2 separate regions of the Homo sapiens genome follow, and region 2 is reported to be linked to region 1. The links are microRNA targets in miRTarBase. Many come from high-throughput screens and were not tested one by one. Region 1 holds a microRNA gene; the other region holds the end of a gene's coding sequence.
Evidence for each region. Region 1 holds the annotated microRNA hsa-miR-203a-5p (AGUGGUUCUUAACAGUUCAACAGUU, at 6,985-7,009, shown strand). A microRNA usually pairs through its seed, bases 2 to 8, with sites in the 3' UTR of a target mRNA and lowers its output. Matches are read on the target gene's strand: a 7mer-m8 pairs with bases 2 to 8, a 7mer-A1 pairs with bases 2 to 7 and ends in A, and an 8mer does both.

Region 2: miRTarBase lists HOXD12 as a target of hsa-miR-203a-5p. The part of its 3' UTR that is shown has no 7-base or 8-base seed match.

Annotation. Positions count from the first base shown.
Region 1 is chr14:104,110,447-104,125,840 of GRCh38, forward strand. MIR203A (microRNA 203a) reads left to right here and starts at 6,959; the gene lies at 6,959-7,068. ASPG (asparaginase) reads left to right here. Exons shown (of 16, transcript NM_001080464.3): 14 at 1,056-1,155; 15 at 1,474-1,554; 16 at 2,078-5,136. The coding sequence ends at 2,098. MIR203B (microRNA 203b) reads right to left here and starts at 7,057; the gene lies at 6,972-7,057.
Region 2 is chr2:176,095,495-176,108,289 of GRCh38, forward strand. HOXD12 (homeobox D12) reads left to right here and starts at 4,301. Exons shown (of 2, transcript NM_021193.4): 1 at 4,301-4,881; 2 at 5,028-6,995. The coding sequence starts at 4,308. The coding sequence ends at 5,266. HOXD13 (homeobox D13) reads left to right here. Exons shown (of 2, transcript NM_000523.4): 2 at 1-450. It overlaps HOXD11 (homeobox D11), which reads left to right and starts at 11,786. Exons shown (of 2, transcript NM_021192.3): 1 at 11,786-12,642. The coding sequence starts at 11,862. RefSeq lists enhancers at 1,448-2,031, 2,032-2,614, 4,156-4,888, 8,656-9,642.

The sequences.
Region 1 (15,394 bases):
AGTAGTCAGGTCCTGTGGGAGCTGGGACCAGAACCCTGGTCCAGGACTCTGCTTGGAAGTGGCCTGGCCAGCCTGAGCTGCTGGCTGGACTTGAGCCCCTCGGCTAGGCCTTCCTAGGGGCCGGTGTGTGTGTGGGGCTTGGCCTCTTGGAGCAGGTCCAGGAGGGGCCAGTGAGGCCATCCAGCAGATTCGCTGCAGAGATTACCCAGTGCCACTGCAGGGCTGCTGCTGTTTCCTGGGTAGGCGCAGAGTCCCTAAGGGCCCTCCAGAGGAGGGGGCAGCCCCTTCCTCACCAGGCCACTTCCCCCAGCCCCTGCACACCATGGGTGGGTGGAGCCTTCCCTGCCGGGTCCCCACCTGGCCTGCTCCTGGCCTCCCCAGGTGGCGAGTGAGTTCTTCCCAGGAGGGTGGCAGGGTGAGGAGGAGCTGGTGAGGGCCTGGCAGGTGCTCCCCACTCCAGGGCAGGTGGGCCCAGACCCCTGTCCCAGCCAGGACCCCCCCATGCAGTCTGCCGGGGTCCAGGGCCAACCGTTATCCTGGGTTGCCTCCTGTGTCCCCCTCTCTGAACCACTGGGCTGCCTCAAACTTTCCTTCCACCTTTGCGGACCCCGCCCCGGGAAGAGCGGTGTGTTGTGTAACACGAAACTGGCGTGGGCTGCTCGGCAGGTGGGCGTGCATATGTGTGTGCAAAGGCGCATGTGCTCATGTGTGTGTGCACATATGCTCGTGTGTGTGTGCATGTGTAGGTGTGTGCTTGTGTGCTCCTGTGTGTGTACATGTATGCTGCTGTGTATGCTGCTGTGTGTGCATGTGTGTTCATGTATGTTTGCGCATGTGTACCCGACTTGAGTCGCAGTCCCACCCACTGGGTGAAACCAGGCTCCAGGCTGCCCGATGGCCCCCAGTGACTCCTGCCCCAGGACCAGGTCGCTGCTGGGTCAGCTGTTTGGGGCTGGCTTTGTAAGAGCGTCCAGGCCACCTGGGGGACAGGCACGTGGGCAGATGGACAGGTGCCCAGCAGGCCCCAACAACTCCTCCTCTGCCCCCACCCCCAGGCTGGCATACAGGGCCGACCTCGAAGGCCTGCAGGTGTGGTGGCAGGCAGGGGCTGACCTGGGGCAGCCGGGCTATGACGGGCACAGCGCCCTGCACGTCGTGAGTGCCCCCACCCCCTGCACCCTCTCCAAAGGCTGCCACCTCCAGGAAGGACACCTGGACAATTCACCAGCTCACTGCTCTGCCCCTCCCCGCTCTGCCCCTCCCCCAAATGCCTGGCCCTCCCCATGCAGGACCCGCACAGACTGGGTCCCCTTCCCGGGGCTCTGAGTGGTGGGGGTGACGAGAGTGGAGGAGCTGCTGGGGCCCTGTGTGTGTGGGCTGGGGACAGGGGAGGGCATCCTGGGGATGGGGATCCTTGGGCCAGGCTGCTAGTCAGTGGCCCCAAGGCAGCCCCTCCCCACTGCTTCCCCATAGGCAGAGGCAGCCGGGAACCTGGCAGTGGTGGCCTTTCTACAGAGCCTGGAGGGTGCGGTTGGTGCCCAGGCCCCATGCCCAGTAAGTCCCCACCCCAGGCGGGGCTGACACCCCCCAGTGAGCTTCTAGTGCAGGGCTGGATCCTGGCTCGGGGGGGCGTAATCAAGGGGAACAGAACCGGAGGAGGCTGAGATGGGTCCCAGCCAGTTTAGGGTCTGCAGAGCCCCTCCTGGGGATGTCCAGGGTGGAACACAGTTTAGAGGTGAGGAGAAGGAGAAAGGAGCAGTCAGGGAGGGCTTCCTGAAGGAACTGACCAGACTTGAGCACTGAGGGCCCAGCCAGGGCTCAGCATCCCCTTACCCACCCCTGCCCCTGCGCCCTGCCCCACCGGGACCCCCTAGGCTGGGTGCTTCCGCTTGTCTCCCAGGCCAGTTCCCAGCTGACACCCCCATTCCCACTTGGTTGTGTGGCCCTCCCATAGTCTCAAGCTGGGTTTGCTCAGGCTCTTGGGCTGTGCCGTACAGACGGGGTGCCTGGGCTTGTCTCTCTGCCCTGCCTTCGCACTCTACCTGGGTGTCCTTCTCAGGAGCCCTCATGTTTTCAGGAAGTGCTGCCTGGTGTCTAACCTGAAGGCGTCCTGCTGCAGTATAAGCCATTCCTTCCTCCCATGACCTGCTGGAGGGGTCTCAGGCATGACCCCACTGCTGGGGCTGCTTCCCAGCCTGCTCTCATGTAAAGCCTGAAGGCCTTTGTTGGGCAGGACGGCAATAAAGTCTCTGACATCCCCTCACCAGGTCTGTACAGCCTGGCTCTGAGAGGCTCTGTCTGGGTCCGGGACTGTGGATGTGTGTGGGGAGTCAGGCCCAGGCTCTGTGGGGTCTCTGCGGGGGTCACTTGGCCCATCCTTCCGGGGGCAGCTGTGCGTGTGAGCTGGGCAGGGTGGGGTGCATGGACGTGACTTGGCCAAGTGGTCCTTTCCCAGCTGCCACTCCCCCTTCCTGCCACCCTGCCTTTGCCCAGGCTGGTCCCTCCTCCAGACACCCTCTGCCCATCTCCTTACCTCCTGCGCCTTCATTCTGGAGCTTGAAGTCCCCTCCCCCAGGCAGCCCTCCAACCCCTGGATGAGCATGCTGCCCCTGCTTAACTCTTTAGTCCTCACAGTCCCGTCCCAGTTGCTGTCTGGTTTTCTGTCACCCCAGTATCGCTGCACCCGGCCCCCCTCTCAGGCCAGGGCCACACCAGGGCTCCATAGGGCTGCGGAAGCCTGTGAGTGTCAAGGGGGCTTCACACTCTGGTGGTGAGCCCCTGGGGACCATTCCAGCCCCTGCTCTGCCTGAAGCTCCTGATGCAGCCTCCACCGTGAGCCAGGCCACCCTGTAAGGGAAGAGGTGAGCTGTGCCTGCCTGGTTGCACAGCCTGGGCAGGTGGGCGGGTGGGGCGGGCCCTGCTGCTGCCCGGTGGGGGTGGTGCTCCAAGGCCAAGGGCAGCCTCGTGCCTTCTTTCAGCTGGGGCTGAAATCGGGGGTGTGGACCCCTGGCCCCCATCATGTGTGCATGCACTGGCCTGGGATGGCCAGGGACTCCCTGCTGCTGCCCCCAGCCCCTGACCCCTTCTTGCTGGGTGTGAGGAGCATGGGGGCTGCCTCCCTCCAGGCCTCTCTACCTGCCCAGGTGACGGTTCCTTTTGTCCCTCTGTTTGGCTGGCCTCTGGACTGGAGCCCCAGGAGGGCAAAAGCATGACCCCAGAGCTGGCCCTTGGCACCTGGGCATACCCCAGGCTCCTCAGCCTGGTTCCCAAGCCTGGCTGGTACTGCCGCTGGCATCCTTGCTGTCCTCACCCCGACACAGGTGTGCCTGGGCCTTGCACAACAAGGTGACGCCATGCGAGCGTGGCAGGGCCGGGGAAGCCTTTGCTCCTCACCCTGGTGAGGCCCATGAGGGGCTGCAGGTGGAGGGAGGGTGGCACCGGGCCCCAGAGCCAGGAGCCCCTGCTGTCCCCGGATGGCCGAGACCCTTGGAGGGCCTTGGGAGAGGCGGTGGGGCATCTGGACAAATGCCTGGTGCAGGTGAGAAGGGGTGGGACTACCTCCGGCATCCCTGGGCTGAGCCCACCTGGTCTCCCCGGTTGCTCCTGCACACGGCAGTGCCCACCTGCTTCCCTCAGCTCCTGAGGGGCTGGGCAGAGCCTGTTGCTCACGCCACCCCACTCAGTGCTGCTCCGGGTTGTGAAAGCTGCAGGTGGCTCACGTTAGCCCACATGGCAGCACCCTCCCAGAGCAGGTGCCAACCTGCCAGTGTAGACACACCGACTGATGCCGGGGGTGAGTGTCCTGTAGTGTAGAAACGCCCACTCATCCTGCTTGTCCCGCAGAGAGCATTTGTCAAGCTGGCCTTTCTCCAACTGGGTCACTGATGGAGTTCGGCAGAGACGGCTTGGGGGCCACGGGCTGGGCAGATGGGGAGAGCTCCTCACAAGGCTGGGCAGCCAGACCCCCATTGTCAGTCCCCTCCAAACCCTCGTGGGATGTAGGGCCCTACCACAGGGAGCCCCGGGACTGGGCCAGTGTCTCAGGAGGCTGTGAAGAGTCATAGGCTTGAGTCTGGGAGCTTTCTCGGGGGCCGTTTTGTGCCCCTTGGGGAGAGGCCAGAGGGGCCCTGGGTAAGGGGACTCCTCTAGAATCACCCAGAAGTGGCAGGAGGTGCAGGGCCACTGCTCGGGGCTCCCTGGGCTCTGAGCTGGGCAGTGACCTGGCCCCAAGGCCTCTGGCTCTCTGGCGTGCAGTGGGAACAGCCGGGACAGACAGGCTTGGAGCGTTCGTGTCCTGCGCCGCGTTGGTGTGTTTCGTCCCCACTGTGCCTGTAGGAGGGCACCGGGTCCCCGTCTATCCTACTTCATGGCTGAGGAAGCTAAGGCACAGAGTGGCCCCGTCCTGCGCCCAGGGCTCTGCGTTGGCACAGGGCAGAGCTGGGCTGTGAATCAGGGCCGCCTTGTCTCTTGCTGTGGTGTGAGGCTGTGGGAGACTCAGGAATGAGGCACAGCCAGGTGCCCAGTGCCCGTGGGACCCGCCTCCCCACAGTGGGGTGGCGCCGCTCACACCTGGTAATTTCACGCTGGGGGAGGCCTTGGTTCCTATAGCCCATCTCGAATCACCTGGATCCCAGGGCTATCTCTGGGGAACATCTCCTCTCCATCACGACTACTGTCTTTTTCACCAGCATTTTCTATCCTAAAATCAGACTCCTCAGCTGAGGGCCCTCCAGGACCGCCCTTCCCCAGCTGGAGGTAACCAGATTTCTCGTGTATGCTAGGAAGTTCCCCTTCTGGTCACACCTCAATATTTCCTGCTGCTGGTGGGAACTGCAGGTGCTTGTACTTGTCACCTTCTCCCCGTCCTCTCTCGTCAGTTCCCTTGGATGCTGGACACGGGAGCCACCTGGGCGAGGGGAGCCCATCCAAGTGGCTGTGCGTCGGGAAGAGTCTGCCCAGGACTGGGCTAGACCAGAACTTAGAATTAAGGAGTGGTGGCCAGGCTTGGTGGCTCACACCTGCAATCCCAGCACTTTGGGAGGCCGAGGCGGGTGGATAGCTTGAGCCTAGGAGTTTGAGAACAGCCAACATGGCGAAACTCTGTCTCTTAAAAAATAAATAAAAACATTAGCCAGGTGTGGTGGTTTGTGTCTGTGGTCCCAGCTACTTGGGAGGCTGAGGTGGGAGAATCGCTTGAACTGGGAAGATGGAGGTTGCAGCGAGCCAAGATCGCACCACTGCACTCCAGCCTGGGCAACACAGCAAGACTAGGTCTCAAAAAAAAAGAAAAAAAAAAAGAAAAGAAGAGAGGTGGGTTCTTCTTGCCCATGCAGTTGTGTTGGGGGAGGAGCTCCCAAGCTCCTGTTCTTGATCTCAAGCTCCCCTATGCCCACTTCCATCCCCACCCCCATGCCGCAGCCCCTCGGACTCCACACCCAGGCACTGAGACCCACAGATGCAGCGATGGCAAGGCCTGTCATCCCTTCTCTACCACCAAGAGCTGTGCAATCCCCAGAAGTCACTGTCCCTCCCTGAGCCTCAGTTTCCCCAACTGCAAAATGAAAATAACAAAACCTTTCTGATTCCCTTTCCAGGGTGGCTGCGGTGGTTGAGCCACACGCGGCCCATGTGGAAATGTCTGGGGGGTCCCTCAGATCTGGTGGCTGTGTTCTGGTCTGGGGCTCACCTTGGCTCCTGAGCACTTGGCTCCTGGCTGGCTGGGCGGGTGGTGGGATGGCGTGTCACCGCCCTGCACTGGAATGAATGGTCACCACCCTGCTGCCCAACCCCATACAGACACACTAATGGCTCCAGACTTGGGGCAAGTGCTGAAGGGGGCTCTAGGGTATTTCCTAGAGCCTGAGCCCTCCCCTCAGCTGCCATGTTCTGCTGAAGCAGAGTCCCTGGGAGGCGCCACTGGTCAGGCCTGGACACCTCCAGGTGACTAAGTGGGTAGGACCGGCAGGGCCAGCTGCGCCAGGACGTTCGGGGCTGGGCTGTGAGTGGGGGGAGCGAGGCTCAGGCCCTTGCTGCGTGAGGGGGTAGGGCGTCCCTCCCCCCGCGTGGGAAATGAGGAGGCAGGTACGGGGCTACCCCTGTGGGCTGCGGGGTGGGGGTTCAGGGTCTGAGAAGCAGAAACCTCCCTCCCTCCAGTTTCACTTTCTCTTTACCCCTCCCCTTCCCCCTCCCACGAAGTTCCCTTTGAAGTGAGAGGGGCTGGGGTGGGTGTGTCCAGCCCAGCCCCCACACCCACCGGAGAGCTAGCGCGGCCCTGGGCTCCTGTCGGGCGCTGGTCCTCACCTGTTCCGGCCACCCTGGGCCTCGACCCGGCCAAGGTGGAGCCCCGGGCCCTCCGTGCGCCCGAGCACCCCCGGCCCAGACGAGACGGTTCGGGCGTGGCCCGGCGGGGACCCAGAACCCGGGAGGCCAGGTGCGCCCAGGCCAGGCGCTGGAGGCTGGGGCGCCGGATGGGGCGGGGCGGCCGCTGAGTCAGGGCCACCCCCGCGCGGGCGCGCGGAGCAGGTCCCCGGGCCGTGGAGGATCAGTCGCGGGACCTATGGGCCCGGGAGCCGCCCCGCCCGGAAAAACCGGTCGGGCCAGCGCGGCGCGGGCACATTCCGGCGCCGGGAAGGGCGGCTGCGCCGCATAAAAGGCGCCGCCGCGCTGGCCACCGCCGCTCGGAGCTCAGCCGCCCTGCCACGCGGGGCCCGCGGGACGAGGGGACGCCGGGGCCAGCGAGGACGCGGCGGGGCTGGGCTTGGCGGCTGGGATCCCCCAGCGCCAGGCGAGGGCGTCTAAGGCGTCCGGTACGGCGTCGGGGCCGGGTGGCTGCAGCAGGGCAGGGGGTGCGCGACCAGCGGGGATCTGGGCGCAGGGGCCGGTCCCCGGGATCCGCAGGCGACGCGGGCGGTCCCAAGGGCGTCGGGGGCTCCTCTCTCCGCAGCTCGGCGAACCGACGGTGTTGGGGACTCGCGCGCTGGGTCCAGTGGTTCTTAACAGTTCAACAGTTCTGTAGCGCAATTGTGAAATGTTTAGGACCACTAGACCCGGCGGGCGCGGCGACAGCGACGGAGCGTCCCACGCGCGGCCTGGAGTCAGAGTCACAGTCAGGGGTGCGCCGGCGACCAATCCAGGGGAGCCCACGGACCGGCTCCGCGCTCCAGGTCGGCCGCCCCATGCGCCGCGCCCCGCAGTCCCCAGGGCCTGGCTGGCTCCACCTGCTGCCAGGGAAGACCCTCGGCCGGAGAGCCAAGTGCTGCTGGGAGGTGGCCGGGCGTGGCCGGGCTGTGCTGTGGGAACCGCTGGGTGGGGGCGCGCTGGGTTGCCCACGCTCCTGGCGCGCTGCCGGCCTGGAGACGCCGCCGCCGCCCTCTTGCACCCCGAGGGCCCGCACCTCGAAACTCCGTGGAATTCCCAGCGAGGAACTGGCGGTGGGCCCGTAGGGTTGAGGAGCGCTCCTTGCCCTGGGCTTCCTGGGAGCTGCCCATCAGGCTGCCGGCAGCCGCACCCTGCTGGGCGGCCGATGGTTCCCGCTGCCGGCTCCCCGGAGCGTCTCCACTCACTGAGGCCTTAGGGAGCGCTGCGCGGCTCCTACGAGTGCGCGCTAAACTCGTGAAGGACCTCGAGGCACAGGAACTGGGGGTGGGGAGGAAGTTTGCAGACTACACCCAGGTAGAGGAGAAGCGGCGCCCATGATGACAGGTGCCTTCGCCGGAGCCTCCCTGGAACCTCGTGGTAGCTAGCGCCCACAGGAGAGGTGTGCGCGTCAATCTGCGTGTGAAGCCCCGGGCGGCCCTGGGAGGGACTCAGCAAAGGGTCGAATCTGTCCCCACCTCCAGCCAGGGGCCGGGGTCTTCTGCCTGGTGCTGCCTGGCCTGCTGTGTCCTCTGGGGTGGAGGGTCCCCCTCCAGTCCCCACCTCCTCACCCAGTGTTTAGAGAGCTGCGGGGAGTCCTGGGAGATGGGTCAGACAGGCCTGGGTTTGAGGCCTGCTAGGGTGGCCTTGGGCCAGTCACCTGCCCTCTCTGAGCCCGACCTGCACACATAGGGGGTTGATGTGAGGAGACAGGAGGTGACTGTGGAGGGCTGTTCCAGAAGAGGGCCAGCAGCAGGACAGCAAGGTCCCCTGGCCACCCAGGTGGGGGGAGTGGAGTTCCCGGGAGAGCATCCACCACTGGCCAGTGCCTCCTCTGTTGCTCAGCAAATGCCATTGTGGCCACCTCTCAGGATCTGGCTTCAGAGCTTGGGGCCGTGGGAGCGCCCAGTGGGTCTGTGGCATCGGAGGGGTTGGAGTGTCTTCCCCAGCTGCTGCCTGCTGACCACCGCAGCCCCCTGTAGCCATTTCATTTTACAAGCACGTTCCCCCGTGCCCTCTGCATGGGCCCTCAGCCCTCAGCAGCCCCGTGAGAGGGGCTGAGGCTCAGGTGGGAGATGGCGGCTGTGTCCCTGTTCTGCGGCTTGGAGGCATTCTGTCCGGTGTGCGTCTGTACAATTTAGACTGATGACAATAAACATGTTCCAAAGCATCGCTGTGTCCCTGGGGTGCTTGTCCTTTTCCCCCAGGCCTCAGCGTGGTTTCTCCCTTGAAAGCAAGCCAGCCTTTTCCTTCTAATCTCAGAGAAGCAGAAATGAGGATGGTTGGTGGAGGGGCAGTGGCCTGGTCCTTACCCAAGACCCTCCCTCAACTCTGCCTCTGGCACTTTGGTCTCCAGGGAAGCCCCCAGCCTCTGCCACCAGCTTTCTCGTTGCAGTGACCTCCCCTGGGCCACTGGGCCAGACCCCCTCCCTCGGGTTTGAGCTGCACTGCCTCAAGGAGCCAGGCTGGGGAAAGGGCTTGGCTCCCAGGGGCCCCACTTTCAGGGGCTCCAGCCTGCTCCCACTCCCCCCACTCACCACAACACTGCTCCCTTGGCTGGCTCCCACTCATTCCCGCTGGAGCCTGTAGGCTGGCCCTGGGGACCTGGCCAGGAGAATGGGCAAGGTGGGAGGGTTGAGGGATTGAAGAGACAGAGGCACCTTCCTCCACCCTCCCTGCCTCTGGCACAGGGGACCGAGAGTCTGTCGTGCATTCAAACCCCAGCTCTATGCCTACAAGCAAGTGACCTTGGCAAGTCCCTTATCCCCTCGGAGGACCTGTTTCTTCCTTCTGTAGGATGACGTGGAGCTCGCTGGAGGTTCCCCTGACATGATGCAGCACACTTCCTGAGTGCTCAGCAGGGCAGAGCTCAAGCTGTCACTGGAGCTGATGTGGTGGGAGGGCCAGTGGGGGATCCTTGAAGAGGCCGAATTTCAGCCAGGGCCTCGGAGGACCAATGGAAGGCCTCAGGTGGCAATGAGGTGTGGTCTTACAACAGGCCCCTACTTGGTCCCTGGGGACACCAGGAGGACAGGCCCCTACTTTGCTGAGACTAGACCTGTGCTTCCTGGCACCCCAGCCCCTCCACTCCGGCCTCTCCAGCCTCTGCCCCTGACCCAGGTGGAGGATGGCTCCTCGGGGTCCATTCCTTCAGCCATGGAATTCCTGAAGGGAAGCTGGGCACGTGGGGCTCCTGGGCTGCTGGTGGAGACACATGCCACCTCTACACAGGGGAGTGTGAACAGAGGCAGATGCAACTTCTGGGTGGAACTGGGGCACTGTGGTGCTGAGACGTGCCGACTGTGCTGCTGGAGGGCCACGCCGGGGCAGGGCAAAGCATCCCTGCATGAGGCCGACCCACCTGTCCAGGTGTGCCTGCGTGTTTCCTGATTTGGCACCGAAACGTTCTTGGAATCTTCTGAGTCTGGGGCAAACTGGGACTGCTGATCACCCTACGTGGGACCAGCTCATGTACACGCTGCCCTACCCACTTGGACAGCTGAACAGCTTGTCTTTTCCACAAGAGAAAGGAACCTTCTGCCTTTTAAAGCCAGTGTTATTTTGGTCTCTGTTAAAGTAGCTAAACCAGTATGTGAAGGCAGGGGTTCTGACTCACTGCAGAGGCCCAGGCTCAGTGAGTAGGATGGGTGGCAGGGATCTGGGTCTTCACCAAGTTCCCAGGCGAGCCTGATAAATGCCCAAGGCTGACAGCAGCTGTCTTAGGCGAGAGACCTCAGGAAGAGAGACAGGCTGGGGGAAGGGGAGACAGGTCCTGAATCTGCAGCTATGGGTGGTGCCTGGCCTCTACTCCCTGGGAGCAGGAGCCTAGAGTAGAATTTGCATCTTAGCCTCTCTGTCCTTCCCCAGAGGAGTCCATAGCGCCCGCTGAACAGGTAACCTGCCAGGCCAGGGTCTGGGGGTGCCCACTCGAGGCTCATGGAATCTAATTGTATATGCAGGTCTCAGGCCATTTGTGCTGCTGTAACAAAACCTCTGAGATGGATAATTTATAAGGAACCACGAGAAATTTATTTCTTCGGATCTGGAGGCTGGAAGTCTAAGATCAAGGTGCTGGCAGGTTCAATAGCTTGTGAGGTCTCAGTCTCTGCTTCCAAGTTGGTGCCTTGCGTGGGTGCTCTGGAGGGGAGGGACACCATGTCCTCACACGACAGAAGGGATGAACAGCAGAAAGGATGGGAAGGGCAAACTCGCCCCCTCATGCCCTTTTATAAGGCACAAATCCTACCCATGAGGGTGGAGCACTCATGGCCTCCTCAGCTGCTGAAGGCATCAGCTCTTCATCCTGTTGCACTGGGGATGAAGTTTCAACATGAATTTTGGAGGGTCACAAGCACTCAAGCCATGGCAACATATTTGCAGTTGAGAATCATCAGAGGGAGGACAGATGATGGCTCCTTCCTGGGTGACTAGATAAGCCCCATGGGACAGCACATCTGTCACAGGGCTGTGGGGTCACTGTGACTGGCTTTCTGAGTATCTTTCCGTGGTTCTGAGGCTGCCCGGGGAGCAAAGTTGTGCTGGGAGGGCACACATACAAGCTGAGTTGCCTTGAGCCCGCCAGTCTTTGTCGGGGGTGTCACTATTTTTCTTGGGTTTATTGAAATGCCACTGACCTACAGTAAAGTGCACAGGTTTACAGTGTACAATTTGATGACTCTTGACATATATATGCACATCTGTGAAACCATGACCACAGTCAAGATGATAAACCGTTGACCAAACACAGCTACCTGCAGGGTTCATCCAGCCCTTGGTGATCCCTCTTTACTTCCCCAACTCCTCCCACCCCTGGAGTTTTCTTTGTTGGAAAGAACTCCAAATTCAACTTATTTCCTAGATATAGGAACATTCAGCATATCTATTTCTTCTTGAGTGAGTTTTAGTGATTGTTTCTTTTACAGGATTTATTTAATCTAATGTTGAATTTATTGGTATAAAGTTATGCATACTATTCCATTATTATCTTTGAATATCTGTAGACTGTGGTGATGAACCATTTCTCATTCTTAATATTAATTATGTGTTTTCTCTTTTTTTCTTGATCCATCTGGATAGAGGTTTATAATTTTTATCAATTTTGGGAAAGAACCAGCTTTTGGTTTTATTGATTTTCTCTATTGTTTTTCTGTTTTCTATCTCAATGATTTCCACTCTGATCTTTATTATTTCCTTTCTTCTCCTGACTTTGACTTTTATTTGCTCCCTTTTTCTAGTTTCTTTTTTAAATGTTTTATTTATTTGACATATAAAATTGTATATATTTATCATGTACAACATGTTGTTTTGATATACATATAATTATGGAATGCCTAAATCAAGCTAATCAATATATGCATTACTTTACCTACTTATCTTTTTTTGTGGTGAGAACACTTTCTTAGCAATTTTCAAAAGTACAATACATTGTTATTAACTATAGTTACCATGTTATACAATAGATCTCTAGAACCTATTCCTCCTAACTGAAATTTTGAATCATTTGACCAACACCTCCTCAACTTCTTTTTCTTAAGGTAGAAGCTGAGGTCACTGATGACCTTTCATCTTTTCTAATGTAGTCATTTTATTGCTATAATTTCCGTCTAAGCACTGCTTTAGCTCCATTATACAAATGTAGATGTAGTGTGCTTTCAGGTTCATTCACTTTAAGATACTTGCTAATTCCCGTTTTGAATTTTTCTTTGACATTTGGATTATTTAGAATTCCCTTCCCTTACCTTCTCTTCCCTCCCCTCCCCTCCCTCCTTCTTTCTTTCTCTTTCTTTCTTTCTTTCTTTCTTTCTTTCTTTCTTTCTTTCTTTCTTTCTTTCTTTCTCTCTCTCCCTCTCTCTCTTTCTTTCTTTCCTTCTTTCTTTCTTTCCTTCCTTCTTTCTTTCTTCTTTTCTTTCTTTTTCTTTTCTTTTCTTTCTTTTTTTGACGAGTCTGAGTCTGTTTCCCACATTGGAGTGCAGTGGCACGATCTCCACTCACCACAACTTCTACCTGCCAGGCTCAAGCAATCCTTCCACCTCAGCCCCTGAAGTAGCTGGGACTACAGGTGTGTGCCACCATGCCTGGCTAATTTTTGTAGTTTTTGTAGACATGGGGTTTTGTCATGTTACCCAGGCTGGTCTCAAACTCCTGGGCTCAGGTGATACACCAGCCTTGGCCTCCCAAAGTGCTGGGATTATAGGCATGAGCTGCCACACCTGGCCTGGGAGTGTATAATTTTTAGTTTCAAAATATTTGGGAATTTTCATAGTCTGTTTCTGATATTGATTTCTAATTTAATTCCATCATAGTCAGAAACCATACTCTGTATTACTTGAGTCCTATTAAGTTTATTGGACTTGTTTTATGGCCCATAATATGTTTTATTTTGGTAAATGTACTGAAAAATAATGTGTATTTTGCTGTCATTGGGGGCACTGTTCTACAAATGTCAACTAGGTTAAGTTGGTTGATAGTGTTGTTCAAGCCCACTGTATCCTTACAATTTTGTGTCTAGCTGTTTTATCAATTACTGAGAGAGGACTGTTAAAGTCTCCAACTATAACTATGGATTTGCCATTTCTCCTTTCAGTTCTATTCATTTTTGCTTCATGTGTTTCTGGACCTCTGTTATATGGTGAATAAACATTGATAATTCTTATGTCCTCTTCTTGAAATAAGCCTTTTACCATTATGAAATTGCTTTCTTTTTTTTTTTTTTTTTTTTTTCTGAGGCAGAGTCTCTCTCTGTTGCCCAGGCTGGAGTGCAGTGGCACGATCTCAGCTCACTGCAACCTCTGCCTCCCGGGTTCATGCCATTTTCCGGCCTCAGCCTCCCGAGTAGCTGGGACTATAGGTGCCCGCCACCACGCCCAGCTAATTTTTTTGTATTTTTAGTAGAGATGGGGTTTCACCATGTTAGCCAGGATGGTCTTGATCTCCTGACCTCATGATCTGCCTGCCTCAGCCTCCCAAAGTGCTGGGATTACAGGCATGAGCCACTGTGCCTGGCCTGAAATTGCTTTCTTTATCCTTGATTATATTCTTTGCTCTGAAATTTCTTTTCTTTTACTACATTAAAGTTGTTCCAGTGTCTTCTGGCTTGCATTATTTCTGATGAGAACAATGCTGTCATTCTTATCTTTGTTCATTTGCATTTAATATGCCTTTTTGTTATTAACATAGGCATTCCAGCTTTCTTTCGATTAGTGTTAATGTGTTTCTTTTTGTATCCTTTTACATTTAACCTATTTCTCTTTTTACATTTAAGCATTTTTTTTGTAGGTAGCACATAGTTGGATCTTATTTTTTTATTTGGTCAGACAATCTCTGTCTTTTAATTGAGATATTTAGACCATTTACATTTACTGTGATTATTTACACATTTGAATTTTGATCTGTCATCTTGCTCTTTGTTTTCTTTCTGTCCTATTCATTTTTTTGTTCTCCATTTATTTATTTTTTTGCCTTCTTTTGGATTGATGGACTATTTTATGATTCAAATTTATACTCTTTGTTGTCTTATTAGCTACAACTCTTTGATATGTTTTTTCATTGTTTGCTTTAGGACTTACATATACATCTTTAACTTATCATATTCCATTTTAAAATAATATTAATTTATGTACAGTGTAAAAAATTATGTATAGTATTAGAATCTTGCAGCCTTATAGATACATAACAGTACACTTCCATTTCTCCCTCCCAGGCTTTGTGCTATTGTTATTCTTCATTTTATTTCTATATATGTTCTAAGCCCTACAATATAGTGAATTTTTTCTTTAGTCAGTTATCTCTTAAAGAGATGTAAAAATGAGAGAAAAAAGATTTTATTTTATTTTATTTAGTTTTTGAGATGAAGTCTCACAATTTCAGGCAGGCTGGAGTACAGCGGTGTGATCTTGGCTCACCGAAACCTCCACCTCCCGGGTTCAAGCGATTCTCCTGCCTCAGCTTCCTAAGTAGCTAAGACTACAGTTGCGCACAACCATGCCCAGCTAATTCTTGTATTTTTAGTAGTGATGGGGTTTTGCTATGTTGGCCAGGCTGGTCTTGAACTCCTGACCTCAGGTGATCCACCCGCCTCGGCCTCCCAAAGTGCTGAGATTACAGGTGTGAGCCCCACGCCTGGACAAAATATTTTATTTTTGCCAGCATGTTTACCATTTCTGGCGCTCCTTTGTGTTGATCCAGATTTCCATTTGGTATAATTTGCTTTATGCCTGTAAGACTTCTTTAACATTTCTGGTAGTGCAGGTCTGCTGTTGATAAATTATTCACCTTTTCAACGTCTGAAAAAGTCTTAATTTTGCCTGTGGTTTTGAAACATATTTTCATTGGCCATGGAATTCTAGATCAAAAGTGTCTTTTTCTTTCACTGCATTAAACTTGTTCCAGTGTCTTCTGGCTTGCATTATTTCTGATGAGAACAATGCTGTCATTCTTATCTTTGTTCGTTGCATTCAATATGCCTCTCCTCTACCACGTAGTTAAGATTTTATCACTTGTTTTCAGAAATCTCATTATGTGCCTTGATGTTTTCTTCATGTTTCTTGTGCTTGAGGTTCATTGAGATTCTTGGATGTGTGAGTTTACGGTTTTCACCAAATTCTGAAAGTTTTCAGCCATTATTTCTTTAAATATTGTGCACAAACCCCTATTCCTTTTCTGGCATTTTCATTACATATATATCAGGCCACTTAAAGTTGTCCCAAAGATCACTGTAGCTCTGTTCATTTTTAAAAATAGTTTTTTTGGGTTTTCTTGTTTCATTTTGAATAGTTCCTATTGCTATCCAAATAACTACTTCTTCTGCAGTGTCTAATTTGCTATTAATTCTATCCAGTGTAATTTTCATCCTGGACATTATATTCTCCATCTGTGGAAGTTTAATTAGGTCTGTTTTATAACTTCTCAATGTTTCCATATCCTCTTGAACATATTAAAATATAGTTATAAAAACAGATTTAATGTTCTTGTCTATTAATTACATCATCTGCTTCATTTTTGGGTTCTACAGATAGGTTTTTTTCTTCTCATCATGTATTTT
Region 2 (12,795 bases), not on the chromosome of region 1:
ACATTTAAATGGCTGCAATCAGTAGAGTGACCCGCGGATGGCATAAATGCACCTCCTTTTCTTGGCCTTGGATCTATGGGTCTGGGATTGTGGTCATCTCCTCAATCCTCAAAAAGAGGCTGAATCAATGTGGCCGTGGGTGGGAACTTACATACAGAACCCAATGAAGAACTTGACTGTCTAAACAAGGGGGCCTCGCATGGAGCTGTAAAGCATCTAACAAATATGAAAAATGTGAAGTTCCAAGGTCCAAGAAGAAAAATAATGATGTTTCTGAAAGTGATGATAAATAATTACTTTTAAAGTGCTGCATATTTATACAATTGAGAGATTATTTTTGTAAATGCAATGTCTGTGAGCTGGGATACATGGGCAGTGCTTCAGACATTTAAAAATCACTTTTTACTCCTAGGGAGATGCCAATAAACAGAACTCTTTTGTTTCTTCTGAGTCCTTATACATTTGTTTTATTTTTTCAAGTTTGTGTTTCTTCTTGAAACGATTCTTATTTATTACAAAATCTTGGTATCTTGAACACAATTATGTTCTCTATAGATGAAGGAAACTCAACACTAATTCTGGTTTCTGGAACCTTCATGCTCTCCACTTTTGCCCCCCTCCCTCCCTTTTGCCCATGACTTTAACATAAGTAGTGATGTTTTAAAATGAGGATATCATTTACAGTGTTTAAAATGATATTTTATACCAGGCCAGCTCAAAAGACAATAAAATTTTACTTTTCTTTCACTATTGTCAATTTATTTATATAGTTCTATTTATTTTTTAATCCATATGTATTTGTATGCCTGTGCATAGAAAAACTTACTCACTTGAAAATTTTCAACCTGGAAAGACCATTATAAACATCTGGACTAGGAAGGTCTTGAAATTAGAAAGACATACCCATATTTGGCAATCGAAAAAGAAACATTTCAAGCTTATCCCATATCGCCTTCTCCGGGCAGTCTGCACAGAGCAGTTGACAACTGAAAACATAAAACCTAAACTTTCAGACGCAATTTTTAGGCACTAGAATTTTCTGTTTGAGGCCTTTTTGCCACTCAGGGAAATGGCCGATGAGGAACTGGATGACTCCTCATGGTTAGCTCCCCACACAATCAACTCAGTGGTTGCTAAAGTTTTAGTGTGTAAGTTAGTTACATAGTGATATTTAAAACCTCACTTAGTGTGAAAACTCTCCTGGTGGGAGGGCTCCCTCATGACTTTGAGAGAGAAAACGCAGAGACCTAAGACTTGGAGCTACTTTCGTTTTCCCTGTCCCAGCTTGATTTCTTTCATATCTTACTGGCGACCGTGGACAGCTAACTTCGATTTTGAGGGGGAGGGACAGAGACAGAGAAACAGAGAGAGATATGATCGCGATTCAATCTTTGCAGAAGAAATAACCCGTGCACAAGGGGCCACACCATCCCCCACCTTACACTTCGGGAAGGGTCGTTACCGTTTTTGTGGTTTTTCTCAAAAGATGTGTTTTCATCAGAAACGGGCACATTTTTCCTTTCTCCTAATCGCCAACTTCCCCTCCATTTTTTGTGAGTCCCACACTCCGGAGCTTCACTCCATTTCCCCTGTCTATTTCTCGGGTTTCCCATCGTGGGTAGGGGAGATTGCCTCGAGGCTTTCCTTTCATCTCTAGTTTGCATGTCACTTCCCCCCCTCCCCCCGCCTTGGAGAAATGGTAGGTTTGCTGAAGATTAAAACTGTGCTCAAACGCTCTCTGGAGGAATTTGGATTGAGGGCTAAATCAATAACAGAAGAAGGCTTTGTTATTCATATGCATTCCCTTTATATTCCAAATTGCAGAGGGAGGAGAGGAACTGGTAAGTGGCCCAGGCACTGGGAGGGAGGCCCTCGGGGAACCCGGAAGGCTAAGGGGGCTTGGAGAGAGGCCTTTCCTTCGGTTGGAGACAGGCGGCAGGAGAGCTCCTCAGAAACCCGGCAGGTTTTTAGCGCCGCGGGTGGGGGAACGAGGTCCCCGTGTCGCGTGATTCAAGAGGCGAAGGAAGCATTGGAGCCGGGACTCACGGTCAGACAAAGGGGCGACTGCAGTGCTTCCCCGCCTCTGGCAGCCCCCTGGGTCCCTCTGGCTCCGCTGTCAGGGGCGGCCTTGCCGCCAAGATCTCCGGCTTTCGGAGGCGCTAGGCTGCGTCTGAAAGCGGGCTGGCGACCCCAGGGAGGCCGCACCGCCCTTCACTGTTGATCTTGACCGTGCGGCTGCGCCCCGATAGGCATGGAGCGCGCTCGCCATCTCCTGGGCATTGGGCGGCATTGGCAGAGCTCTCTATTCGCTCCTCAGCCAAATCCTGTTCCATTCTCTTAATCACCAGCCAAGCCACTCTCCCGCCACTACTTTCCACCCCGATCCTCCCTCGATCAGGTTCCCCAGCTCGCATAAGACTTTGCCTGCCAGACCTCGAAAGTCATAAACCCGGGGGATGAAGTGGGAAGACTGTCCAAGGAGCAATGGAGGGAACCTAGTTGTTCTTGTTTTTCCTGTTTTTCACTGAGTTCTTTTATGCCTTTAGTCCTGAGGCGCAAACAGCTGTTGTAGGGCTGCCTAAAGGTCCGAAAGAGACACCCCTCGGCTTGGAAATAACGAGGAATCGTCGTGCACTGAAACGTGAGGAGAGACTGCAGGGACCCCTGGAGCTGGAGCTTTCGGGAGTAACGAAGCTGCAGCTCCTCGAAAATAGGATGGGTTCCCCAAAATAAGAGCTCTTAGGGATCTGAGGCTTGTATTCCCTTGAGTATCTAGGAACTGGGATTGCAGTTTGTGCTTGCCCCCACCTCCCAAGAGAGGACGAGAGCGAGTGAGTCTCTATGCCTGGGCTCCTAAGGAAACTCTCTGGCAGAGCCAGAGGAGCCCCAGACATCCCCACCCCCCCGTCCTCACTCCCTCTCTCCCCCCCACCAGAGCAGGAGGAAGAGGCCGATTGCGTTCCCCAGAGCCACCCAATTGGTCGCCATAACTCACACAATAAAGTGGCAGCGCGGCGGTCAGTCTTGCCCTCCGGCGGCGCCTGTGTGGTCTCAGTGCAGGAGCCCGCGATCTAACCAATTCCAGCTTGGCTCGGAGACCGAGGGTCCTGCTGCAGGCTGAGACTGGCGCCGGTCACCGGGTCTCCCAGGGTCTTGGGATCAGAGGCAGGAGGGGAGGACCCCTAGTCCTCTGGCCGGACTAGGCAAGAGGGCCAGCGACGGGGTCTGAGCACACCGCTCCCGGCTAAGAACTGCTGCCTTTCCCACTTCCCTGTTTGTCAGACCCGTGAACTCCCTATCCCCGGCACCCCTGGGGGCGCTGAGGCAAGGAACTCTGCTAGCCAGCTGCCTCCGAACGCCCGCTGTTCCCCGGCCAGGTGGTTCTGGCTCTTCTGCCTTTCCACACCCAGTCGGGGGAGTTCGTCCTGCTTTGCCCTCCACTTGGTGGATGGGGACACCTCGGAGTTCTGGTTTGCAGTGTGTAGTCCTGGAGAGGACTCCTGAAGATAAAAGGAATGTAGCCTTTGGCCACGATTGGTGGATCGAGCTGATGGGTTCCCTGGCGGACATTCTCCATGGACCTGTATGGCAATTTCCCTATGATCAGAGTTCTTAGCCATGGGGACACAAACCAGAAATAGTGTGGCCTCCTTCCTGGATCCCAAAATTGGGTAGTTTGTGATGCCCTTTTTGTGTCTGCGGCCTGGGACTGAGGGCTCAAGTAGCGAATGGGTCTTTGCTGCCAGATCCTCAGGCAGAGGTCTCTGGAGAAACCCTCTCTGTGGGAGTGATTGGGGTAAAAGTGACATTGCTCAGGCCAAGGGACAGAGCTCCTGGTGCCGCCGGACCGCGCCCTCTCCGGATAAGTCGAGAGGCGCCGGTTAATGGAAAATGCCTCCGCTGCAACTTAAAGCCGGTAGAAGCAAGCCGGGCCCAGAAAGCCTGCGGAAAACGAATCGCAAAGCCAATCACGACCAAGAAGAGTCCCAGGGGACACTTGGGCAGAGTCACCCTCTTGCCCGATGTCCCCAGCTGCTGAAGCCGGGCCTGGAAACCCGCAGACAGTTAGTCTTCGCTCAACCTGATTTGGCTCTGCTGGCAGCCTCGTCCTTCGCCATCGAACATTGCGGGTGTTATCATAATACTCTGAAGGGGGGGAAAACGGGTCGGGGGGATGTAGGCGGTGCTGAAATGACCGGCTTTGAAGAACCTGCAGGCAAAGTTTCGTCCAATCGTCTGAGCCTGTCCTCTTATTCCCGGTTGTAACTAAATACTGTTGCGAGCGCAGCCGAAGCCCTTTGTTGGAGATGTGTGAGCGCAGTCTCTACAGAGCGGGCTATGTGGGCTCGCTTCTGAATCTGCAGTCGCCAGACTCTTTCTACTTCTCCAACCTGAGGCCGAATGGCGGCCAGTTGGCCGCGCTTCCCCCTATCTCCTACCCGCGCGGCGCGCTGCCCTGGGCCGCCACGCCCGCCTCCTGCGCCCCCGCGCAGCCTGCGGGCGCCACTGCCTTCGGCGGCTTCTCGCAGCCCTACCTGGCTGGCTCCGGGCCTCTCGGCCTGCAGCCCCCAACAGCCAAAGACGGACCCGAAGAGCAGGCTAAGTTCTATGCGCCCGAAGCGGCCGCTGGGCCAGAGGAGCGCGGTCGTACCCGGCCGTCCTTCGCCCCCGAGTCTAGCCTGGCTCCTGCAGTGGCTGCTCTCAAAGCGGCCAAGTATGACTACGCTGGTGTGGGTCGTGCCACGCCGGGCTCCACGACCCTGCTCCAGGGGGCTCCCTGCGCCCCTGGCTTCAAGGACGACACCAAGGGCCCGCTCAACTTGAACATGACAGTGCAGGCGGCGGGCGTTGCCTCTTGCCTGCGACCTTCACTGCCCGACGGTAAACGGTGCCCATGCTCCCCGGGCCGGTTTGGGCCGGGATGGGAGGTGGGGTTCAAGGGAGAGTGTAAGGGGAGGTGAACCGCCTGGGGGCGGGCAATAGACAGAGTACGGGCTGGGTTGACGTGGGTTGGGGCTGTGTTGCAGGCCTGCCGTGGGGGGCGGCCCCGGGGAGGGCCCGCAAGAAGCGGAAACCCTACACGAAGCAGCAGATTGCGGAGTTGGAGAACGAATTCCTCGTCAACGAATTCATCAACAGGCAGAAACGCAAGGAATTGTCCAATAGGCTGAACCTCAGCGACCAGCAAGTCAAAATCTGGTTCCAGAACAGGCGTATGAAGAAGAAGCGCGTGGTGCTTCGGGAGCAGGCGCTGGCGCTCTACTAGCCGCGCGCGTGGCCAGGGCCGGGTTGGATCTGCCCTTTTGGACAGAGGCCTTGTTTGGGGAGGGGGATCTGGGGCTAAGGCTAAGGCTTTTCCTTCGGTTCCTTCTCTGCTGGCCCCAGAAGCCACCAAGAGATTTACAGACCAGGCCAGTTGGGCCTCCTTGCTTTCCTCAGTCCCTGAGAAGCCCGTGAGAAACGTGCGGAAGTACCAGTGCAACTCTGGCTGGCCTTAAGGCTTCCACGTTGGGGGACTGAGGCCAACTCTCCTTGCTCCTGGCTGGGGCATTTGCACCCACCGCTCATTCTTGCTCCCCGGTACCTGGATTTTTCTGTTTCCACCCAATTCGTTCTCCCTTTCCCCCTCTCTCCAGCCCCTTCAGCGTATAGCAGTCGCCTAGTTAGGGCTCAGAGTGGAAGGCCTCCTGAGGGAATGGAAAGGACTGTGGGTACAATTAGGTCTCTGCAGCAGAAGCCCTTTGTGGCAAGGCCAGGATCTTCACTCTGGAGAAAGGAAAGGGCACCATCCACCCTCCACCCTCCTGTCTGCCCTGGCTGATTTGAGAGAACAAAAGCCACACTAGATCTTCAGACTTTGGGAGGAAAAGGGAGGGAAGGGGAGGGGCTGGGTAGTGGGGTAAACTTGGAGATATCTCGAAATGAGAAATGCGAAATAGGCTGGCCTATTTCCAGCTGGGTAGAATATGTGGAACCTTCATTTCCTGAGATGGGATGAGAGAGACTGGGACTCCAGACAAGTGCCATCTCCAGACAAGACTGGCAAACATTGCCCTACTCCCACCTTCTCAAACATGCCTAGGCCAGGCCTATGAACCCTGTAACTGGATCCCCAGAGGCTAGCTCTGGTGAAAGGAGCTGTTGGTCTGCTTTGAAGCTCTGTTGCACAGGGAGAGGGAAAAATATCCAGGGGAGGAGAAGGGAGTGAATAAGAGGAGGAGGGGTGCTGCACTCCAACTGTAAATATGGCTTTCCAGTTGAGGTGAGTAAAGGTGTTGGTGCATCTTTCTTTCTTCAATTACCTTAATGGAACCCCATAAGGATAGGCAAAAATCCTTCTCAAGAGTCAAGGGGAGGGGAAGGAAGTCTCTTAGATTCTCTGCCCCGCTAGCTGCTCTTGACAAAGCAAAGAGGACCAGAAGTTCCTCTCACCGTCTCTACCATCTGCCAACTCTACCAGAGGCCCAGCTACTGTGCCCCTTCTGAGGCATGTCTGGCCTGTCCCAGTGGAGACTTTAAGGCCCTGGGCCCTGCCAGGCTTGCCTCATGGAGGCAGGGGTTCCCAAATGCCAGGTGGAGTTGTTCTGGGTGTACTGGAGTGTCCCGCCTTAATCTCAGTGAACCAAGCCTCCCCCTGCGAGCTCATTCCACTATCCCTGCCTCTTCTCCCCTCTCCTTCTGACATGTAGCACTCCTCCTTCGCAATTCCTAGCATGATGCACAACAACTCAAGGATTCAGGATTCCTTCCCAAAGTCCAGTGATTTCTTTTCAGTGCAGGACCTGGCCCTAAATCTGGAGTGGGCCCCTCACAGAGAGCCCTGAGCCTTAGCCCAACTGACTTCAGTTGATATTTAAACTAATTTCATTTTCTAGGCTATCTAATAGTTATCATGCATGTTTTGTTTTGATTTTGTCAAAAACAGTAGCTTGTATATATCAGACACAATATATACAAATGTTTTGAGTGAAAATAAATATCCAGGTCTGAGCCAAGCTGTCAAGGAGCTGAAGTCAATTTTTCAAAATGTTTTGGATTCCACCTTAATGTTTTTCAGGCCACCAAATTCGTTTTTCTTTTCTGGTTATTGTTTCACCGCGAGTGTTGACTGTTCGTTAAATGAGAAAATGGCTTCCGAGGCAGTCAGGAAATGGTGTGTAAAAGCCTACAAACCAAATATGTTTGGAATATCCAAAAGGGAAGGACCATGGCAGATCTGAGTGTGTCTCACACATTAAGGGGACTCTCAGCTTGTTGCAAGCTGGGACTTCCACACTTAGCCTAAATTCTCAAATTTTAAAGCTTGCTGGTATTCGGGGTCTGTAAAGATTTGAGGTTCTTCAGATGTCAAAACAAAACGTCTGTCTCCACCGAATTTTGGTCTGACTTCTCTGGAACCGGCTATGTCCTGCTAAATCCTTGATACCAGCAGGTTTACCAGGCGCCCAGCAGACTCCCTTGGGAAATGGGGCCTCAAAACTCCCTAGTCCATCTGAACCTCTAGCTTAGTCCAGGAAATTCAGGGCCTGCTTGCTACTCATTTTCTTGCAAAAACAAGCTCCTAGCTGGTGGAGGTGGAAACTAGCTTTTAGCTAGAGGAAGAATTAGCAAAACCACTAAATCACTAACACTGAATATTCAACATTTCAACTCCCTTTCCCAGAAGCAAATTTGGTGTATAATTGAAATTTTTAATTGTTCTTTAATTGTATACACACACACAACTATATATACCTATATGTATATATATTCAATAGGAGAGAAAGAAGCAAGAGCTGCCAAGGCCCTATGGCTCAAAAGGATTCTCCACCTGGCTGGGCACATAGAGGCGATGGTACCCAGAGCAGGATCTCCAAGTCTGAGTCTGCATTCAGAGGTTTGCCTCCTCAAAAACAACTGAACAAAGGCTGAAGCCGCACTGAGCGCTCGGAAGGCTGGGGAAAGGAGGAGGAAAGCATATGAACTCAGATCCAGGCCTTAAGACAGAAAACACGGAGGCCGTTTCTTTCCAAAATATATCATTAAATCATCGTGTTCTTTCCCTTTAGCCTGGGATGAGTGGGGGGAGGGGATATTCATGGAGATCACTCCTCAAAGAAAATTAAATTATTCTAAATATAAAAGCGTATCTCTTGGTTCAGCAGTCTTTTCCAAATCTATCCCGTTTGCTATTTCACACAAATACAAAGACTCTGGTGTCTCCTTCCATAGCCCGGGTTCCCGCAGAGATTTGGAACCACTAGGAAATTTGTTAAAAAAAAAAAAAAAAAAAAAAAGCCGAAGAGAAAGGACGCTAAAATCTGAGTGCTCAACATTCCCTTCAGAAAGACAAATGTGTCCTCTGAAATGCTGCAGTCCAAGCGGGCCTCTTGACCAAGAAAACAGTTTTAAAACGAGAAAAAAACAGCTTCATCTGGCATTCAATCAGTTGGGAACTCAGAGGGCGGCGGGGAAGGGGGGACGCTTTTAAGGCCTGGGGGTTCTCCCCCAGGGAGGCGGGCTGAGGAGGCTTCCGGGATGCCGGCGGGTGGAAGAGAAATCTGGAACCGTTGTAAATATTCATGTGGGGGGATGCCCCTTCACCCTTCACCCGCCTCTCCCAGCTGCATTCCCCCCTCAGTGATAGTGGGGGAGGGCAAGGCGACTGCCCCACTGTCCTTAGACAAAGGTGATCTCCCCATATTTTTGTTCTCCAGTCGCTTGACTTAAGAAGTCCATTCCGAAGGCTCTGTAGGGAAGGAACTGGCTCTGGGTGTTTTCCCTGCATTTCTCTTCTTTCGTTTCTTAAAAGAGCATAAATAATTAAAGTTTGGCAGGGAGGAAAAGCTTTCTTGCAGAACTGTAGTGGCAATAAATGAAATGACTCAGAATCCCTTCCCCAGTCAGCTTTTACGAGAGCTGCCAGACAGTGTCTGTTCACGTTCTCCAGATACCAGGGGCGCCCTGACAAAGTTAAGGTCAAGTTAGTGTCTTATCTTGGGTGACTCAAAATCACCGCATCGCGTCCTGGCGCTGTGCGGAAAGCTCTTTCTCGCGGAGCGGCTGGCTGCGCCCCGAAGGCCTGGTGCGCTCCCTGCGTTTCGGGTGGGGCCGCGCAGGCAAGGACAAGGCCACAGAGTCGGGGTCTTCACGGTAGGTTCTCGAGCGGGACGCGCGGGTCCGGAGGCTGCGGTTTTCCCTGGGTTTGGGGAATGGGGGTAGGAACTAGGAGGGAGCTGGGGCCAAAGAGCCAAGCGGGCTGGGACTGGAATGAAAGCGCTCTGGGTTGTGGAGTGGGTCGGGGGGCAAGGGTCCGCGCTAAGGAGCCGAAAGGGGCCGGCCGCCCCCTTCCCCTATGCACCGGCGCGCCACTGCAGATGGCTCACCCTCCCCCGCCAAATCGCTGCTCCCGCCGGAGCTGCCGTCGCCATGTCGTTGAACTTGAATGGTTCGTCCTCCCCTTTTCCCTCTTCGGCGGTCAGCAGGCTCCATACTGGGGGCGCCGGGCTGCCTGCACCCCACCCCGTGCCGCCAGTAGAGAGAAGGTGCGAGAATTTTGCGAATCCCCAGACACATAAAGACCCGGGTTGAAGTCCTCGCAGCTGCCCTGGGTCCTGAGCTACCGCAGGGCCAGTGTGCAGCGTCCAGGGAGCCATTTTAGGAGAGAGATCCAGGGGCGTCGACCACGAGCCCGAAAGGGAGAGGCTTGGGCCTGGGATGGAGATGGGGAGGCAGATAAGTGTGCTGGGGGTCTGGGTTGAGGAGAAGAATGTCAGCTGGAATCTGGGCGGGGGTGCCAGCTGCGGGGAGGGAGCACACAAGATGGGCAGTTCTAGTTGGGGGAGGCTCGATGCCCTCCAGTCGCCACAGACCTATTTGCGCAGTGTTGGGGGAGGGAAGAAGACATGGGAAGGGGCGGAGGAAGGAGAGAGGAAGGGAGAAAGGGAGGGAGGAGAAAAAGAGGAAGGGGGGGTACATCAGCCAGAAAATAGATATTAGCTCAGACCACCCGCCTTTTCTCTGTCTGTCCGCACGGTGGGCAGAGCGCACAGCACCGGCACTGCAGCAGCCCGGGCCAGGGAGGGAACCAGCATCACAGCCAGCGCCGCCTGCCCTGGGTATAGGACTGAGGCCCAGGCCCCAGCGCTGGGATTGCCTGGGCGGAGGAATCTTGGGGAAAGGGGCAGCCTCCTGCCCTCGGTTCTGGGATTTGGGTTTGGGAAGAGACGGTTTACCTTTGAAAAGCGTCTGCTCACTCGGAGGTGGGATCCCAGGCCTTGCCTGGACCCATGGGCTAGGAGAGGGTCGCGGCAGGCTGGGAGGAGAGTGAGGCCTTGGGGGAGTGGATGGGGTGCCCCACGAAGAGTCTGCCTCAGAGCCAGGTGACACAGAGGGGCTCCAGGAGGGAGTCAGGCTCCGCTGAGAGCCCTTAGAGAGACAACCTATCTTGGGGGAGGGGCTGAAGTGACCATGCAGACCCAAGGGTACCAGAAGAGCCTCGGGGAAACGCGGCGTGGATTCGCAGGCCTTGGCGGGGCTCCGAAGCAGTGAAGGGTCTAGGTATAAGGCGGACACCCAGGCTAGGCCTGAAAGCAGAGGGGTGAGGAGGACGAAGGTGCGAGTGTGTGGGGGTTGTCTCTTGTGGGGAGCCAGCGGGAAGCCAAGCACCCTAAGAGTAGGACTCCAGATCCTTTTGTTCACCAGACTCCCCAGATTCTAGGGAGGCTGGGGACCACGGGCTGAGCCCCCTCCTGGCTTCAGTGCTGAAGGAGAAGGCAGAGAGGCAACGGGGAGAGAGACAGAGACAGTGACACACAGCTTAGAGGAAAGGAGGGGAGAGGATGAGAGGACAGAGAGAGAGAGGAGAAGGGAGACAGGAAAGCAAGAGGAAGGAAGAAGGAAAGCGGAAAAGAAGAGGAAGGAGAGAAGTGAAGACAGGAGAGAGAAGGGAGAAGACTGAAGAGAAACGAGGCAAGGAGAAAGAGAGACAAGAACAGAGAGGGAAACCAGAGAGAAGGGAAGAGAGCCGGGTGGGCACGAAGGCCCCGGCCTGGGTGAGTGCCTAGGTGGTGAATGGCCTGGGTTTTTCCGAGGCCAGCACTCGCACCCTTGGGGTCAGAACCGGAAAGAGCCAAGTCACTCCACTCTGAACGCGCTGGGCAGAAAAATATGTAAATCAGGGCTCCCTGCGCCCTGGAGAGTGGCGAAATTACTCCCGCCCGGTGAACAAGAAGCAACAAGCTCCCAGGCGGGTGAGCTGCAGAGGGTGGCAGAGTCGCGGGGGAGGGAGCGGCTGCAGTAAGGGGGGTGGGGTTCGGAACCTCACACCCTCACACCTAGTTCCTAGCTTCTAGGGAGCCTGGAGCCGGGGCTTCCCCCCCTCTGCTCGCTGCTTCTCTCCCTTCCCCCTTCCTCCCCCTCTTCCCCCTCCTTCCTCCTCCCCGCCGGCCTCGGTCCGCGTACTTAAAGCGGCGCGGGAGGGCGGACGCGGGCGGGCGGCCCGTTCGGGCGGTGGCAGATGCGCCCAGCGGTGACAGCGGCCAGCGGCGCGCAGGTGACCGGCCTGAGGCGCAGCCTGGTCAGGGAGCGCCCGGGGAGAGCTGGCGGCAGAGGGCAGCCGATCCGCCCCCAGCGCGCGCGTCTCGGCGCCAGGAGCCGTCCCGGGGCGTGTTGGCGAGCGTTGATATAGATATAAGGACATTTCTCTTCATGGCGTCACGTGACATAATTACCACCAGAATCAATCAAGATGAATTGCACGTCAGCGCCCGGTGGGGATTTTTGCTTAGTTGATCCTGGCCCAAGCCTCTTGTGCAATCGATGGCTCAGGTTGGCTGCGCGGGGAGCGGCCAGAGGCTCGCTGGCGCGCACGCCGCGGAGTCATGAACGACTTTGACGAGTGCGGCCAGAGCGCAGCCAGCATGTACCTGCCGGGCTGCGCCTACTATGTGGCCCCGTCTGACTTCGCTAGCAAGCCTTCGTTCCTTTCCCAACCGTCGTCCTGCCAGATGACTTTCCCCTACTCTTCCAACCTGGCTCCGCACGTCCAGCCCGTGCGCGAAGTGGCCTTCCGCGACTACGGCCTGGAGCGCGCCAAGTGGCCGTACCGCGGCGGCGGCGGCGGCGGCAGCGCGGGGGGCGGCAGCAGCGGGGGCGGCCCCGGCGGGGGCGGCGGCGGCGCGGGGGGCTACGCTCCCTACTACGCGGCGGCGGCGGCGGCGGCTGCGGCGGCCGCGGCGGCCGAGGAGGCGGCCATGCAACGCGAGCTTCTCCCGCCCGCGGGCCGCCGGCCGGACGTGCTCTTCAAGGCGCCTGAGCCGGTGTGCGCTGCGCCGGGGCCGCCGCACGGCCCCGCGGGCGCCGCCTCCAACTTCTACAGCGCGGTGGGCCGCAATGGCATCTTGCCACAGGGCTTCGACCAGTTCTACGAGGCAGCGCCCGGGCCCCCGTTCGCCGGGCCGCAGCCCCCGCCGCCACCCGCGCCGCCACAGCCCGAGGGCGCAGCCGACAAGGGCGACCCCAGGACCGGGGCTGGTGGCGGCGGGGGCAGTCCCTGCACCAAGGCGACCCCTGGCTCGGAGCCCAAGGGGGCAGCAGAAGGCAGCGGTGGCGACGGCGAGGGCCCCCCGGGAGAGGCGGGGGCCGAGAAGAGCAGCAGCGCAGGTAGGCACCGGGTACTGGGCAAGCGGTGGGCCCGGGGGCCGCGGGGGAGGGGGGGGGGGCGGAGGCCTCCCTCTGCTTGCGCCTTTTTATGTGCTACTTTATAAGCATTCGAAGAGGTTTATACATCCTATAAGATTTCCTGGGCCGTTGTAA